Linked DNA regions of Homo sapiens: region 2 is linked to region 1. Evidence: fine-mapped expression QTL. A gene starts in region 1. The other region holds a variant in brackets. All regions are shown on one strand. Distances are between the middles of the regions. Region 1 holds the start of SCYL3 (SCY1 like pseudokinase 3). Region 2 has its middle 7.0 kb from the start of METTL18.

The links.
Region 2: its variant is fine-mapped to the expression of SCYL3 in whole blood (TOPMed, PIP 0.94).

Annotation. Positions count from the first base shown.
Region 1 is chr1:169,890,235-169,898,756 of GRCh38, reverse strand. It overlaps SCYL3 (SCY1 like pseudokinase 3), which reads left to right and starts at 4,861. Exons shown (of 13, transcript NM_020423.7): 1 at 4,861-4,969. RefSeq lists enhancers at 4,434-4,843, 4,518-5,105, 5,106-5,693 and silencers at 5,044-5,123, 5,364-5,423.
Region 2 is chr1:169,783,615-169,792,136 of GRCh38, reverse strand. It overlaps a transcript of FIRRM not described here. Among named protein-coding and RNA genes, the nearest start is that of METTL18, 7.0 kb to the left of the region's middle. The variant A/T (reference allele first, on the strand shown) is at 3,600.

The DNA of each region.
Region 1 (8,522 bases):
GATGGCTAAGGCTTTTATAGAACCAGGAATATATCCAAGATACTTATAGTCTACTTGGGAATCTAAGTTAGAAACATGAAAAAGATTAATTAAAAAAACACCTAAAAGTCAAGCTGAATACCATTGACATGTTTTGATTTGAATTAAGAAGAGGATTGGTTGGAAGTAAAATTCAGGTTGATCCTTAAACAGTATGACAAGAAAAAATTATTTCTATTAAGAAAACAAACTATTTGTTTCTAACTGTCCCACCAGCCACATTCCAAGGACAGCGGATTCAGGTTGTTGGAGATTCTTTTCTTTCCTGGCCTTAGACATATTTAAAATGAGGACTGAGGAATCAGTGAGGGAATACAAGATTTCTATGCATAAGAAAGGCAGAAGGAGCTCAGAGAGCAGCTCCAGGGAACTGAGAACTGGAACCAGAGCTATAGAGGGCTCTGTGGGGTAAGGGCTGGGAGGCAGAGAGATGTAGGGAGGGTGCCTGGGACATGCAGTGTGCTCTCAGTAAATTCATTTGTGTGTTTAATATTTACTGAGTACCTAGTATGTTCTAGGCACTGTGTTATGTGCTAGAAATATGGCAGGAAAGAAAGAAATGAAGGAAGGAAGCCCTGTTTTCAGGGAGCTGATGTTCTAGCTGTGGGACAGAGATGCTGAACAAATATGTGCATTGGTGTTAAGCAAAATAAGGCAAAGTCAAAAGACAGGAAGAGGCAGGTAAGGTGCTGTTTTAGACAGTGTTTTCAGGGGAGCTGTCTCTGATAAATTGCATTCAAGTAGAATTTTCAAAATATAATTATAACTCTCATGCAAATATAAAATGAACACATTAGTTAATGAGGAAACTAAAAAGACATTAAGACTGTTCAAAGAGCATTTGTGTAGCTACATACTTACAAGCAATTTTATAAAGAAATACAGTAAGATTACTAGATTAGATTTTAAAATGAGAAATGCTCTCTAGTGCAATAAGAATAAACTTTGGGGTTAACTTTTCCACTGGACAGAAAGATTTGCATCTTTGTTGGACAAAAATATACAAGTTAGCCTGTGATTTCAATGCCCCAAATCTTTAAGAGTCTGAACAGGTGACATTTGTTCAGAGACCTGAGTGACATCAAGAGCAAATAGGTGAGTAGATGAAGAGTGAAGAGGGGAAGGACTGAGTGTCAAACTCCCTCCCATCTCTCTCCTACTCCATTCACTGCAAAATATTCCCTTCTCATTGATATTTGGAGGAGTGGGTTTACCTTGGGGAAATGAAAGGAAATACAGAGTCCTCTAGGCTGATGAATGATTATAGAGGATACCCTGGAGCTCAGCACATCTGGACATAAGATTAGGGAGCAAGGAACAGGGTGGGAAGGCCAGCAAAGACTCAGAGGTGAGGACACTGGGAAGAGGGTGGGCCAGCAAGTAGCTGTGTTGACTGCAGAAGATTTCACGTACTGGTTGAAGGGACTCATCTCTACTCCTCCTGTAAAAGGAGGAAAAACATAGTTATGAACTCTCGAGGGATAGTGTGAAAGGCAAGAGAATCCTTCTGTCTTTCAAATCGACATCCTCAGCATGTTCTCCCGCTGTCTCCTGGTGCTTGGGTGGCTGCTGCTGTTACACCCACAGCCATTTCCTTTAATAGGGAGGAAAAACCTTTCCTAATCCACTGTCTATCTTCCTCCCAACTTCTGCTATGTCTCACCGGCCAGAACTTGTGACCACCCTAGCGGGAAAGTAGGCTCAGAAAGTGATCTTTTTGATTTCTTAACTTCTTTATCGAAGGTGAACAAGGGAGAAGGGGGTGAGGAGTGGGAATGGATGTTGGAGCTAGTAAACCTAGGGTCTATGTGTTGTATTTCTTTTCTAATTCGGTCTCGAGGTCTCTCTCTGGGAGTGGTTATAAACGTTAGCTCTTCCGTGATGGGGCTTGGATATTTACAGTGTGCCTTCCATGGAATACTTCTTTATCCTGGCAGACGGCCTAAATCCTAGGTGTCTGACCCATGACAGGAGGTCCCTCTCACAGGAAGCTTGTTTATATTAGCAGGCACATTTGTGGCTCTTGTCTGCCCCGTGTCTGGTTTATTCCAACCAAGACAGCCACTCTCTAGGAGAGCCCTAACCAGGAAACAAGTCAGGTGTGGGTGTATAGGTCAGGTGAGACACAGAGGAGGTGAACAAAACATGTGAAATAATAGAAGCAGTTTCATTACTTACAGATCCATAATAAGAGGACAGCATGCCTCACAGGGCCAATGAGAAGGGGGACACACATGCTCAACCAGTGGGAGGGGGACGAGACAGAGAGAGGGACTTGCGGGCCAAAGCCTTCACTGTGGTCCTGGGTCCAACATCTTAGTCCCACTGTGACTAAGAGGTGGTCACTGAGGCATATCTGCAAAGTATATGTGGGGTATAGGGGTCAAGGGGATGAAGCAAGCAGCTTGTACCTGATGGTTCGATAGGGAGGTGGTCACCAGAGGCGGTCATACAAGGCAGATGTCTGGACTGACCACATAGAGGAAGTGGGAGGAGGCACAGAACTAGAGACTGTCCAGGGTGACTAAGCCCTGCTTCTAGTTTGAGAAGGTTAAACCTGTCCTCAGAATGGATAGTGAGGCCTTTGATATGTTCTCCCACCTCTTCATCAAGCATATTGACAAATCCTTTTTCACCAACTTGTCTTGCTATAACCGCCCAGTAGGTTCACCTTGCCGTCTGCCTAGATAGAGCCAATTTATCAAGACGGGGAATTGCAATAGACAAAGAATTCATGCAGAGCTGGCTGTGTGGGGGGCCAGAGTTTTATTATTACTCAAATCAGTCTCCTCCAGCAGTCGAGTTTTTAAAGACAATTTGGTGGGTGGGGAGGGGCAGTAAGTCAGGGAGTGCTGATTGGTTGGGTCGGAGATGAAACTATGGGGCATCACTGTCTTCTTGAACTGAGTCAGTTCTGGGTGGGGGTCACAAGATCAGATGGGCCAGTTTATCATCTGGGTGTTGCCAGCTGATCCATCAAGTGCAGGGTCTGCAAAACATCTGAAGCACTGATCTCAGGAGCAGTTTAGGGAGGGTCAGAATCTTGTGGCCTCCAGCTGCATGACTCCCAAACCATAATTTCTAATCTTGTGGCTAATGTTGGTAGTCTAGACCCCAGGCAAGAAGGAGGTTGGTTTTGGGAAAGGGCTTTTATTGTTTTTGTTTTAAACTGTAAATTATAAACTAATTTCCTTCCAAAGTTAGTTCAGCCTATGCCCAGGAATGAACAAGGATAGCATGGAGGTTAAGGACAAGATGGAGTTGGTTAAATTGGATCTCTTTAACTGCCTTAGTCATAATTTTGCAAAGGCAGTTTCATTGCTACCTGAATGATTTTCCTAACTTATCCATCAATCTCCTGGAAGCCTTTCTCCTTAACCAATGTCTTCAACTCTGCCAGACATGTGGCAGCTTCTTCATCAGCAGATGTGGCCTCTCCAGTTATTTTTATGTTTTTCAGTCCAAACCTATTCCTGAATCTGTGTAGCCATCCCTTACTTGCAGTAAATAGCTTGGTGTGCCTAATTTCAGGGGATCCCTTTCTTAAGTCTTCCTATAGGCTCAACACTTTCTGGCAAAACTTACTGCGGTCAGCTGAAATACGTTTTCTGTTCATGTCTCCCACCCACAAATGTAATGCCTTTTCCGTCTTTTGCTGTTGCACCTCAAACTACAAAAGTTACAGCCACAGTGCATGATAGGTGCTTAGTTAACTAGCACGAATCTTTTTCCTTCTTCACAATTTCATGGATAATTTGTTCTTATCATAGATTTTGGCAACCTCAGCATATGACTCTTTTTCTTTCCTTATTAAGTCCAGAGCTTTCACCTTTTCATTTAAAGGAAGCACTTTACAGCTTCTCCTCGGCATATCCAAATTGTCAGCACAATTCCTGTGCTTTGCGGCCATTATTAAGTAAAATAAGGGTTACCTGAACATAAGCAGGTGGTATCTCTCATTATCTCTGCTATACTACGGGTGCATCTGTTAACCAAAGCAGCTACTGAGTGGGTAATGAGTGGATACTGTACACAGCGCGGCTACCTGCGACAGATGATTCGCGTCAAGGGTGGGACAGAGTGGATGGCCCGAGATTTAATCGGGCTACTCAGAATACAGGCGGTTTGAAACTTAAGAATTGTTTATTTCTGGAGTTTTCCATTTAACATTTCTGAACCAAGGTTTGACCACAGGTAACTGACACTGCAGAAAGCATGGAGGGGGGCAAAACTACTGCATTAATATTAAAATTTTCAAATATTACTTTTTGCTAAATGAAATGTGATTCAGGACCTTCCCTCTCAAAGATCAAGCGAGATCACCACGACCTCCGCCAGCAGCGGCTCTGCACGACTCCACCCTCGCAGCCCAGCCAATCAAAGCTACAGGTTGAGTGACGTCACTCTCCTGAAAGTCCTCGCTAATTCCCGTACTCCTTTTCTCCGCCCTGCACCTCTACTGTTTGCTACAAGTGGCCAGCAGCCATTTTGGATTTGGGCGGAAATGAAATTAAAACTGTGCTGTTAAAAGCCTAAAAATTCAAGTCAAGACAAACTTAAGCATTCGACCAACACATCTAGAAAGGGGGCATCTTCGTGGACTAACTAGACCACTGGGGCAGTGAGTGAAACTCGGTATCGTCGCGGCGCCCACACTTAAGATGGCACCGGCCTGAGACTCAGCTGTGCGGCCTCTCTACCTCGGTTCCTGGTTAGTTGGCCTCATTGGTGGCGTCGGAGGGAGGAAGGTGGGCCTTCTGTCCCGTTTCCGGACCCGTCTCTATGGTGTAGGAGAAACCCGGCCCCCAGAAGATTGTGGGTGTAGTGGCCACAGCCTTACAGGCAGGCAGGGGTGGTTGGTGTCAACAGGGGGGCCAACAGGGTACCAGAGCCAAGACCCTCGGCCTCCTCCCCCGCCGCCTTCCTGCAGGTAACAGGGAGCCCTGCGCTGCGCCCCCAGTCCTTGCAGGACTGCGCCGTGGGGGAAGGGGCCGGGCGGGGAGGAGGCGGCGGGCGCGCGCCCCGCTCGCGGGTCTGCGCTCTGGGGCCCGCGCGGGAGCGAGCTCGGCGCGGCGCCGGCGGCCGGTTGAGCTGTGCTCTCAGCTTCGGAGCAGCCTCCCCTTGCTGATTGTGGGGCGCCCTGTAATCTGCGCTTCGCGGGCGGCCCCCGACGGGTGAGGCGCCCGCGGCCAGAGCTCTCCAAGGCGGCCGCGGAGTCGGTCCTCGCAGGGAGGTGTGGAAGGTGAGGGGCCAGCGAAGCGAGAGCGGCGCCTCGGCCCTTCAGTGACCCCGCGGGGTCGCGGCAAGCAGGGCGAGGGTGCTCGGCTGGGCGGGTCACTGTCCCGGGGCGGCAGTGCCCGAGCCCGGGGGGATCCTGGGGGCGCGCCCGCCCTCGGGAAGGCGGCCTCATTCTTGATCCAAGACCAGTGCCCGTCCCCCAAGGCCCAGCTGGCTCCTGTCTTGGCATAGTGCTTTCTGTTTAGAATAAAGATGAAACATTTCTCGGAAGAGCATATTCAGGAATCCATGTGAAATTCTCGGAGTCGGGTCTCGAATTTTGGGGGTCACTGTTAACTGCTGTTTTTAGGGACCCATGTTCTTATAAAATGTATCTTGAGCTGAAATCACAATTATTTTGGTCCATAAAGACTTAATTGTGTATTGCTTGTCAGCTAGCAATGCTGGACTGAGTTCCGCAGAGGGAATATATACCTGAAACACGAAAGCAAGGGCCGGAGTAACGTTACCGCTGGATACCAGAATATCAGCCAGTACAGTGCATCCTTAATACTCAGAGTGCAAGCCATTATCTTTGGAACTTTCAAGCTAAGGGAGCTAGGACCAAGGTAGTCTCGAGTAATTGCTGGGAAAAGAAAATATTTGGTAGAAACATTTCCATAGAGCACACGGGTTTCTTAGTTGAGTGTATGAGTTGCCCTTTGACCTAGACAAGGGTTTTCTTAATCTACAAGCGGTCCAGAAATTTTATGTGCTGCCCAAGTAGGCAAAAGAGTGGAGGGAGATTATTAAAGGGAAGACTGATGCATATTCAAGTCAGAGACTGTCAACTCAGCATTTTATTATAGAGTGGAGATGCTAAGTGCTACGAAATACCTATTACGGGATACTAGGATATCCTTTTCTACCTTCTTGTGACTTTTTAATTTCAAAGCTAATGAGCAAGATTTTGTGTTTTCCCCGTCCTCAAAACAACAGGAAAGCATTTTGGAAGGCCAAGTGTTTTTCTTACATTTCAATAAATCAATTTTAGCTGAATTATCATTTTTAAAGCACTGGCGGGCATGGTGGCACATGCCTGTAATCTCAGCAACTAGGGAGGCTGGGGAGGGCAGGTAGCTTGAGCCCAGGAATTCCAGGTTACAGTGAGATAGGATAGCGCCAATGCACTCTAGGCCAGCAGCAACAGAACAAGACCATATCTCTATTTAAAACAAAAAACAAACAAAAAAACTTCTTCATATAACAGTATTTGTGCTTCTTTAGATATATTAGTGTGAAGAATTACTGCTTCAAAACATTCTCAAATTGCAATAATCAGCACACCTTTTTAATTTTCCCCCAATAAAGTTTGCACTGGGAACATACAATATAATCTTACCACTGTCAGTATTACACTGATGGTATCAGTGGACTTCTGTCAAAGTTAACATGCTTTCAAAACAAGAAAATGGCATCCTTTCCAGTTCTCTCAAGAAATTGAGTCATCCCTTTTTAATTTTTAAGTGATTTTTTTAGTCTTAGACCTAAAATACAGTAAGAAAAATGAATTTTAACTACTTCCTAATGCTTTTATAACTTTGTTAATTATAGTGGAATTCATATGAAATCTAAGGTTAATAGCTATTGCAAGGCCAATGTTCCCACAAGGAAGTATTTTGCTATTTAGAAATAGCTAAGTAAATTAAATGTTCCTTTCTCTTGCCTCTGGTGACTGCCATTCATCAGCCAGAGCACTGACCCTGAATCCTGGTGGCAGTCTTATCTCCCATGAGGATTAATATTAACACTTAAATAAACAGCATGATTTCCTGCGAAGAAGATATTCATTAATATACAGTCCCTTATTCTCTGCTTTTCTCTTAATTGTGTGTTGATTTTGGAAAGCTGTGTTTTGTGGGTGAGAGAGAGACGGTCAGACTAGCTTCAGATACTTTCAAAGTAACACTTCTGTAACTCACTCTTCCAGTCTGACTGGCTTTTCAGGCAGGAGTTGGAGACCAAGTAGAGCTTTCTGCCTATGAAATGGCAATTAGTTTCAAAGAACATAGACCCATTCAAGTTACCTGAGGAAAAGGGGGCTGGTTGTAAGGGTGTCAATGGGATGTTAGGGTATCTGGGTGGAATTAGATTTGAGGCTGGGCTTCCGGTAGTCTTGAGATGGATAGTAGTAATGTGCCCCCTAAGTATGACTAAGCTACGGTCCCAGTGTTTGCTTTTTAAAATTTTACTACCAACTGACTTCCTCTGGAAAGTTTCTGACTTCATGTGGCTTTGGTTTGCCGTAGCTCCACCTCCACCTCATAGCATCCTTCTACCTTCGGCTATGCTTCTAATAGGCAAAAATTGTTCTTAGTTCAAATTCCTGGGGGAGACAATGATCTGGCCAGTTTATCTCTTCACTCAGGCCATGAAATTGATGGCTAATTTGTGAATTAACCGCCCTTTGGCCCAGGATAGGTACCTGCCAACATTAACTGTGCCCAAGAAGAGGTGGCAAGATCAAGTGCTAAGCATAATCCTCCCTACTCAGCAGGAGGTTGTGACAATCTGGCCAGCACTCTATCTCCAGAACAGAGGGATTAGCATTGTTGCTTTTACCCATGGTCCCACATAAACTTTTTATTTGTAGTCCCAGTAGAAAGGTGAATGTTACCATAGTTGCCATACTTGGCATTTCTTTTAGTACTGTTTTTTGCTTCTCTGTCATTTTTAAGAAAGATACATTGCCAGGTAGGTAGGAATTCAGTGAATTTGTTACAAAGCAGATTTAGTTCTTATTCTCAGCAACATTTTTAGATTTTGAAAATCTTCAATTTTAGATAGCTTTAGCCTTTATACATGTGTTTCTTATATAACGATGGTTGTGGATCGGTAGGCACTTTAAATTTTGTTCTAGGCATGTGTTTTGAGCAGCATTACATACCCAGTGTAGAAGGTGTTGTATGGAATTTCACCGAAGTGGGGAAAAATTCCAAGTAGAGGGTCAATGTGTAATGATTATTGAGTTTATATTTGTCCAAAGAATACAGATTTTAAACAAATTTTTAAAGGCCTACATAGAATTATTGGCCGTATTTGTAGCAGTTTGCTTTCTACATTGCCAGAGTTAGTAAGAACTCTATTTTCTAATTTTTATATTATGGTAAAGCCACCACTGAAAACTGACTGCCACAGATTTTTCAGACATACGTTGTTTGGCCTATATAGGTTTAGAAAACATTTGATTCAACATTGAAAAATAT
Region 2 (8,522 bases), 110 kb after region 1:
ATTCATTTACCTTGTATAGTAAGGATCAGAATGCTGAGAATTTAACTAAATTCACATGGAGATGAGGAAACAAAGGGAATCTGTGACAGAGTATAAAAGTAATACAGAGAACTTGTACTACTTGAGGTTTACCCCTTATAGCCAAGTAAAAGATCCTGCGGTCTTGGTAGGAGGAAAAAGAATAAGAAAGGAGAATTCCAGATTTGGGGGAGTATAGACTTACCAGTTGTTAAATAGTAGGAAAGAAAGGAGAAAGTGTTTTGTTGATTCAAATGCAAAAATTTTCACGTTACCACATTGGGAATTGGGATCTGCCTTGCTCTCTATAAGAACAGTAAAACTGACAGCATTTTTTTCTCTCTTGGAAGTAGCTAAAATAATCGGACATCATGGATTCAATTGAATGTGATATTTACTGGACTTTGTATAGTATCTTGCATAATACTTAAAACCTTATGAGGTTTATGTCATCCCCATTTTAGTAGTGATCATAATAGCTAACTAGCATTTACTGTATACAGGGCAGAAGAGCTTTACATATGTTAACATTAAGTATTCATAACTGCCCTATAAGACTTCAAGAAGTTAATTGATTTGCTCCCAATCACATTTCTCACCTTGAACCAGCATCTGAAGGCTTTAAAATCTTTACACTCTTTCATCACCCAGTGGTCTCAACTCTACCAATGCCTATTTTCATCACAAATATTTCTTAGCACCCTCTTACTACGCTAAGATGAAAGTCATAGTTAAGGAAACTTACTTATATACATTATTAAAAAGCATATTCCTAGTTTATGTATAATTATATGTGATACTCATTCACAACTCTAATATGAAGAAAGTAATTTATAATCAAATAATTTATATCTCATCAGATACACATACAGATGTAGCTACACAGAAGACATGCAGCAGCCAGATGCTTATACCTAGCAACAGGGGTCCCTGATGCCTGCGCCGTGGACCAGTACTGGTCCGTGGCCTGTTAGGAACTGAGCTGCACGGCAGGAGGTGAGCGGTAGGCAAATGAGTATTACTGCCTGAGCTCTGTCTCCTGTCAGATCAGCAGCGGTGTTAGATTCTCATGGGAGTGCACACCCTATTGTGAACTGCATGTGTGAGGGATCTAGCTTGCGCACTCCTTGTGAGAATCTAATGCCTGATGATCTGAGGTGGAACAGTTTCATCCTGAAACCACTCCCCTGCCCAGCCCTTCATGGAAAAATTGTCTTCCACAAAACTGGTCCCTGGTGCCAAAAAGGTTGGGGACTGCTAACCTAGAGTACCATTACTGAAAATGCCACAGCTACAATTCCAGACTTACCTACTAGGTAAGGTAGAACAAATTGGCCTTGACAGCTGGATTGGGGAATTGAGGTACAAATCACTGGATAGAGGCTCATAATACATTAATTGGTTTCAATGATTTTGAGACAAATAGGTATCTCTCAATTCTCCAAGAGAATTAGACTTTTAATGAGGTCTCATCCAGGAGGCCCATTCAGGAACAGCAGAGACATAGCCTCTAACTAGGGGCTCAGGACACAATCTCATTTCCCAGGGAGAGGGTCCAGCAAGTGCAGAAAGGATCAAAGCAGAAGCCCAGTCATGGGAACTAGATAATTTGGGGCATTAAAGATAAATTTGGGGCCAGGCATGGTGGCTCACACCTGTAATCCCAGCACTTTGGGAGGCCAAGGCAGGCAGATCACCTGAGGTCAGGAGTTTGAGACCACCCTGACCAACATGGAGAAACCCCTTGTCTACTAAAAATACAAAATTAGGTGGGCGTGGTGGTGCATGCCAGTAATCCGAGCTATTAGAGAGGCTGGGACAAGAGAATCGTGAGAAGCACTTGAACCCAGGAGGCGGAGGTTGCAGTGAGCCGAGATCGCGCCATTGCCCTCCAGCCTAGGCAACAGGGAAAGACTCTCTCAACAAAAAAAGAGAAAAAAAAAAGATAAATGTGGGGGTATCAAACAGCCCAAAGGGAACACACCTACCCAAGATAGCTGGCAGCAAAAGGGACTTGAGACACAAATTATGGCTACAAATCCAGGAAACAGATACGCAGCTTTCTCATGTAACAGTATCATTTAATCATTTAAGGGTTATGATAACTTGGGTTAAAATTCAATTTCTCCATCTGCAAAACAAGATTTATAATATTATATCCCTAGCAGAGTTCCTTGAAGATTAAGAGTTAAGCATTTATCATGGTTCCTATCAAGTTTCCTATGTATAAGTGGAAATTATTATTTTTAATAATTCGTACTATTTATTCACCTATTTTCTGAACCAGATAGGAAGTCCTGCTCACTTTTGTTAAAAATGGTGTTTGTGCCTTTACAGTATACAAATTTCAGTTCAGAACCTGAAGAAACCACTAAGTTCTAAACCTCGCTCTGCCCACCATTAATCTCCACTCTCTCTCATCCCATTCCCCTCCCTACTCCTCACCTCTGCATTCCTAAATTGTCTTTTTTGGAAGCTTTGGTTGCAGATTATTTAGGATGAAGAAGAGTGCGTCTTGTAAATTTGCTTCTAAAACCCAGTCACATATGTGCTATGTTCTGCCTTTAAACTGCCCATTTCTCAGATGTGCCTGTCCTCTAAGTTCCAGTTTTCATGTCCCACAGACGACGTTCTGTCCATGGTTCAGAAACTCATGGAAATGTCTCTGTGCTGACTGAGTTATGACTTCTCTGTGTCAAATGTGATGGCCAGTGACACATCTGCTATAGGGTCTGTGGGGTGGATAAGTGTCAGCGTTTCATCTGGAGAATTAGATTTTCGAGAAGATTAAACCTATCTTCACTTTTCAATGCCGTCCATAGTATTTTCTTCAGGTGCTTACTAAATGGTCATTTGAAAAAGAGGAATAGCAAGGAAACTCTGACTCCATGAACTTGAGTCTTTGCCTCCACTTCAGCTGGGACATTTTGAATTTTTTATACCATGGTTATGATGGCATTGTGATTGTTGATAATAAGGATTTTCTTTGGGTAAAAGTACACATTTAAAATTGCCATCATAACTAGCGCAACCCAGGAGAGAAGTTGCTCTGTGCTTTGTAAGACTCCTCTACTGCAGTCCAAGGATGCAGCTTCTATATAGCCCAGATGGTTGGGGGAAGCCACAGTACATTTATGACTACTAGCTATCCAATTTCTGCCTTTTCAAGGAATTAAAATTCAGATAGCCCTTAAAAGGAGTTTCATCATCTATACGGGAGGTTATCTAACAAAAATGCTATTTCTGTTTGAAAGAAACTATGTAAAAATTACAATTAACGATTACAAAGAACAACTTTATAACTTAAATATTATCTAACTTAAATATTACTAAAGAAAGTGGGGCATTTTACCCCTCACAGAGCAAGGTGAGTGGCCAATTTGTGATCTGCAAAAAAAAAGATTTGACGCAGGGATACTGTAGCTATCTTTTTCCATTTACTGATGGGATGGAAAAAGTGGATGTAAAGGCTTGCCTTTGGCAGTAAAGTTGACCCTTGAACAACATGGGGGCAGGGGTGCCCACCCCCCTGCAGTTGAAAGTCCACATACACCTTTTGACTCCTCGAAAACTTAACCACT[A/T]ATAGCATACTCTTGACCTGAAGCCTTACAGATAACATAAACAGTCAACTAAGACATATTTTGTATGTCATATGTATTATAGATTGTATTCTTAACAATAAATTAAGCTAGAGAGAAGAAAGTGTTAAAAAATTAGGAGGAAGAGAAAACATATTTACTATTCACTAAGTGGAAGTGGATCATCATAAATGTCTTTGTGCTTGTCATCTTCAAGTAGACTTCAAGTATCTTTGAGTAGACTGAGGAGTAGGAGGAAGAGGATTGATTGATCTTACTGTCTCAGGGGTGGCAGAGGTGGAAGAAAATCTGCGTATAACTGACCATGCAATTCAAATTCATGTTGTTCAAGGGTCAGTTGTATATATTTTAAGCCTTTACAATAGAATTGCATGTACTTAGTCTCATGAAACCCCAAGTGCCTTGGCTGTGCTGCTGCTAGACTGTGTGGTTCACAGTACAAAGATAAAGATGCTCCTTCCTCCAGGCAGATTCAGCCCCATGATAGGGGGAATGGTGGGGTAAGTCAAACAAAATCTGTTTTTAGCCCCACTTGCCCTTTCAACTCTTCTTAGTCATCTTGTGGCTTAGTACTACAAACTTCCACAGTCTTCCAACTGATAAGATATAGGAAAATGGGCAAAAAGTGATCAACATGAAAAAAAACTATGTAACATACATCACATGTAACATACATCACGTTACAGGGGGCTGTAAGAGATGGGTTTTCCTTCTCACAATGATTTGGTGCTCACAAGAGCCATTCCATTGAGGACATCCAGCATGGCAAAATGGAATAAAGTTTTAGTAATCTCATTGTGCAGCAGATTGTTAAAGAAAAAAATGGTTCAATGTTACTTGTTAAAGCATGGTAAGGCAGACTTTATTCATTACCATTGAGATAGTATAGGGACCATGGCAATGGGATTTTGCAGTAGTGGGGAGAAAATAGTCTTAACTGCAGAGTATGGGCAAGTGGGAATTTATAGCCGAGGAGCAAGGTGGGTCAAGGAGTCAGTGGATGAAAAAATACTAAGAGGAAGCATCAAGGGTAAGGAGGATTCTAATCTAACAGAACCTAATAGAATTCTCGCTGAAGACAAGCCAGACACTACCAGGGAGGGAGATAGTGACTTTTGAGGTGGGGATTCTTGCTAAACTGACTTAGCAGAGCTCTTTACTAAAACTGGATTTTACCAAAAAGTCTGCAGGTGGGCATAAGAGAAAGCCCAGAAGCCTAACTAAATTTTGGCCAAGGAAAGAATCTGTCAAGGTGAATGCAGAGTTTGAACCGGAAATTAGGGCTACAGAAGCAAGTATTCCTGTGTGAGCCTCCCACCACTGCACACTGCACACTGCACACTGCACCCTGCAGGGAAAGCATCAAAATGAGCACTGAAGTCAGATGGCTGCTGAAATCTGTCCCTATCGCCCCATTCAAGAGCCTTAGATGTTCTCTGTGCGTCCTGGCTACACTGCAGCAGCAGCAGCATAGTTCTGAAAGCCTCTAAACATAATCCAGTTAGCCACACAGTATCTGTGTAGCTCTAGTAATTTTCAAAGTCTGCTCTCAAACCTCCAGCAGGTCTCCACCAGTAAAGTTCTACTACTGGTCCCAGTAGAGCGGTCACGGATCATTCAATCAGCTCAGTCACCTCTCAGATCTTCCTAAGGCTACAGAGGAGAAATCAATGTGCTTCACAATGTGTAGATAACAAACTTGTCCACTGTAAGATCCTGAAAATTTTATTCAAAGAGATAAATAGGAAAAGAAATTTCTATTCTGTCATGTCTGGTCAAGACTTGTCCAGATTCTTCTTTCTGTGTGTCTAAAATGTCCTAGAGCTCAAAATTCTTCTAGATCTCTGCTATTTTAGGATAAATAACTTCTAGTGAATTTCTGTAAACTAGATGGTGCGCTTATTTTAAATTGCATGAAAAAAGTATTCAGTGTGTGGGCATTTTTTTTAAAGGGAGAATGCGTGTGGAAAGGTACACTAATGCCTAGAAATTCAGAACACATCCAGTCAGCTCAGTGGCACAGCAAATTGTGCCACTCTCTATGCCAGCTTTTTTATTATCATTGCTATTCCACCCTCTTTGCGTTTTAAAAATCTTCAGAGGAAGACCTATTTTTAATGATTTGCTTTTCTTCCCTAAGCTTTCCACAGATTAAACTCTGCATCCTGTTTGCTTTGCTGTGTTCAAGCTTCTCCAGGATTTTTACAATAACTTCTAAGGAAAAATACCTCAGAGATGCATTTTCTTAGAAGGGTGGTCAGACGTTTTGAATATTCTGCATTTTATTTTCTTTAACAGGAAATACATCCAAGCCTGTATTTTAAATATTAAAATAACCACTCGTTTAACTTTGTGACTAGCTTTCATTTTCCCAAAGTAGGAAAAAAATATTATTTATATAACCTCCCTCTTTGTGTTTCTGAAATACTTCAGAAACTCTTGTGTCTTATCTCCCAACATTGTTCAACATAAAGAGAAATAACCTTAGTTACAGTTGAAATCATTAGAGATTCTTAAGTTTCTGGTAATTTTAATTAGGTTCGCTATCATCTATTACTGTCGTATAGATATTTTACATGATTGCTTAAAAAGAAATGACAAAAGCAAATATAAAAACCTGAATGTAAATTATTTTACCCATAATTGGTCTAAAGAAACATCCTGGATCAGCCCAGTATTTGATTACATTGATATGCACAGGAGACAGGGAAATACAGGTTCGCTGGTAAAGGCCCCACCTTCAAGCCTGAAAATCTATAGCCCTAAGTGAGAAGAGGCATTCCTGTTTTTTGCACCTAAAAAGTTCCCTTTTGGCCTGCCATGCCCCTTATTGTGTACCATATAAACCCCAAATTCCAGGCTCCAGAGAGAGACAGGCAGATGAACGGCAGAACAGCATGGCAGAGAAGGAGAGAAGAGGAGCATCTGAACGTCGAGAGGCTGGGGACGACTGGAGAGGAGATCGGCTGCTGGACAGCCAAACTCCAGGAGAATATCATCTTCCCACTCCATCCCCCTTCCAGCTCCCCATCCATCCCACTGAGAGCCACCTCCACCACTCCATAAAACTCCCACATTCATCCTTCAAGTCCATGTGTAACCTGATTCTTCCTGGATGCCAGACAAGGACCTGGGTACCAAGAAGAAACTGAGCTGGTTAACGCTTAAGCTGCAGACAGCAAAGCTGAAAGAGTGCACTGTAACACATGCCCACTTGGGCTTTCAGGAGTTGCAGGCACCCACCTCTAGACAGTACCACGGGGCCAGAGCCCAAAGAGCTCGCCCAGCTCCTGCACCTTCCTGCCTGTGTGCTCCCCCTCCTATGAGGGGTTTGAGCTCATGGTGGCGCAGCAGAGAGCCACCCCACTGTCACACATCCTGCGAGGGGGGCCAGAGAACTCTCCCATCTCAACATGTACACAAGCTTTTTATTTCTCTGGGGCATTTTTGTAATAGGAAGAATTGAGACCCTCCCAGGTGCCACTTCCTACATGTCAGTCCCTTTGTGTTTTATTTTTCTCCAATACTGGCAGACTAAACAGAATTCTGCCTTACACTAAAGCTCAAACACATTCTCATCCCATCAAGAACGCACTGAGTACTTACTATGAGTAGAGAAGGTAATTTCCATTTTCAATTATTCCTGTAAAAAAAAATTACCACTTATAAGAAAGTTTACTCTTGTGTTGTATAGTAACTCAACACACTTCCCTTTCCACTTCATTTCTCCTGGATCTCCTATAAAAAGCTGAGTGATGAACAGAAAAGACCCTGGGTCTATTTGTGTTCTGTGTGTGCCCCTTTTACTGTGACTTGTGCATTTCCTTTGTTAGTCAGGGGACTTTGTCAGATTTAATTTATGAAGGTTCGGAGATTAACTAACGGGAAACAGAACAACAGGTAACTGAGAGTTTTGGACTCAAGCCTTCTCAGAAAAAGAGAAATGTATTAAAGCAAGCAAGCAAGCAAACAGACAAACAAAATTGGATGGAAGGGAGAGGAAAGAGATGAAGAATGATAGAGAAACACATATGGAATTGCATGAATTAAAATTTAGAGCAGCAGAAAGAGTGCTGGGGAAAAAAAATGGTAGAGCCCAAGGAAGAAGACCAGGCAATCAGGGAGTCAAGGGGTTGCCTGCAATTCACACAATACTTGTGAACTTTTAAACAAGTGACTGTGGGAGATTGCTGGTGACTCATGGTGGTAGAGACAATCAAGAAACAGGGTTGGCAAGAGTGCAAGGAGAGGCCCTTGATGACAGCCCCAGTGACCTTGCTGCACCCTACATTTGACCTCAGTTGGAGTTTGGGACTGTGGAACAACACTGCTGAACTTTATATGTAGAATAACCCACACCCCAGTTTGCTTGAGATAGTGCTGAAGTATGCATCTGATATAACATTCTAGCATTCTTAAAAGTGTATTGATTATGGCCAGGCATGGTGGCTCTTGCCTGAGATCCCAGCATTTTGGGGGACCTTGGAGGGAGGATCTCTCTAGCCAAGGAGTTCAAGACCAGCTTGGGCAACATAGGGTGACCCTGTCTCTACAAAGAATTAAAAAGTTAGCTGGACATGGTGGCACACACCTGTGGGCTCAGCTATGTGGGAGGCTGAGGTGGGAGGATTGCTTGAGCCTGGAAGTTCAAACCTGCAGTGAACCGTGGTCATGCCACTCCACTCCAGCCAGGGTGAGACAGCGAGAACCTGTCGCAAAAAAATGATAATAGGTGTGTTGATTATGGTCAGCTTGTGTATACCAATTCTGTAACACTATTCTTATTCTTATAACTTTGTTGAGTGAGTCATGATTTTAAAACAATCACTTGATAAATAAATATTAACTTCAAATCATGTGTCAAGCACTGGGTGTGAAAATAGAATCTAAAGTTAAAATGATACA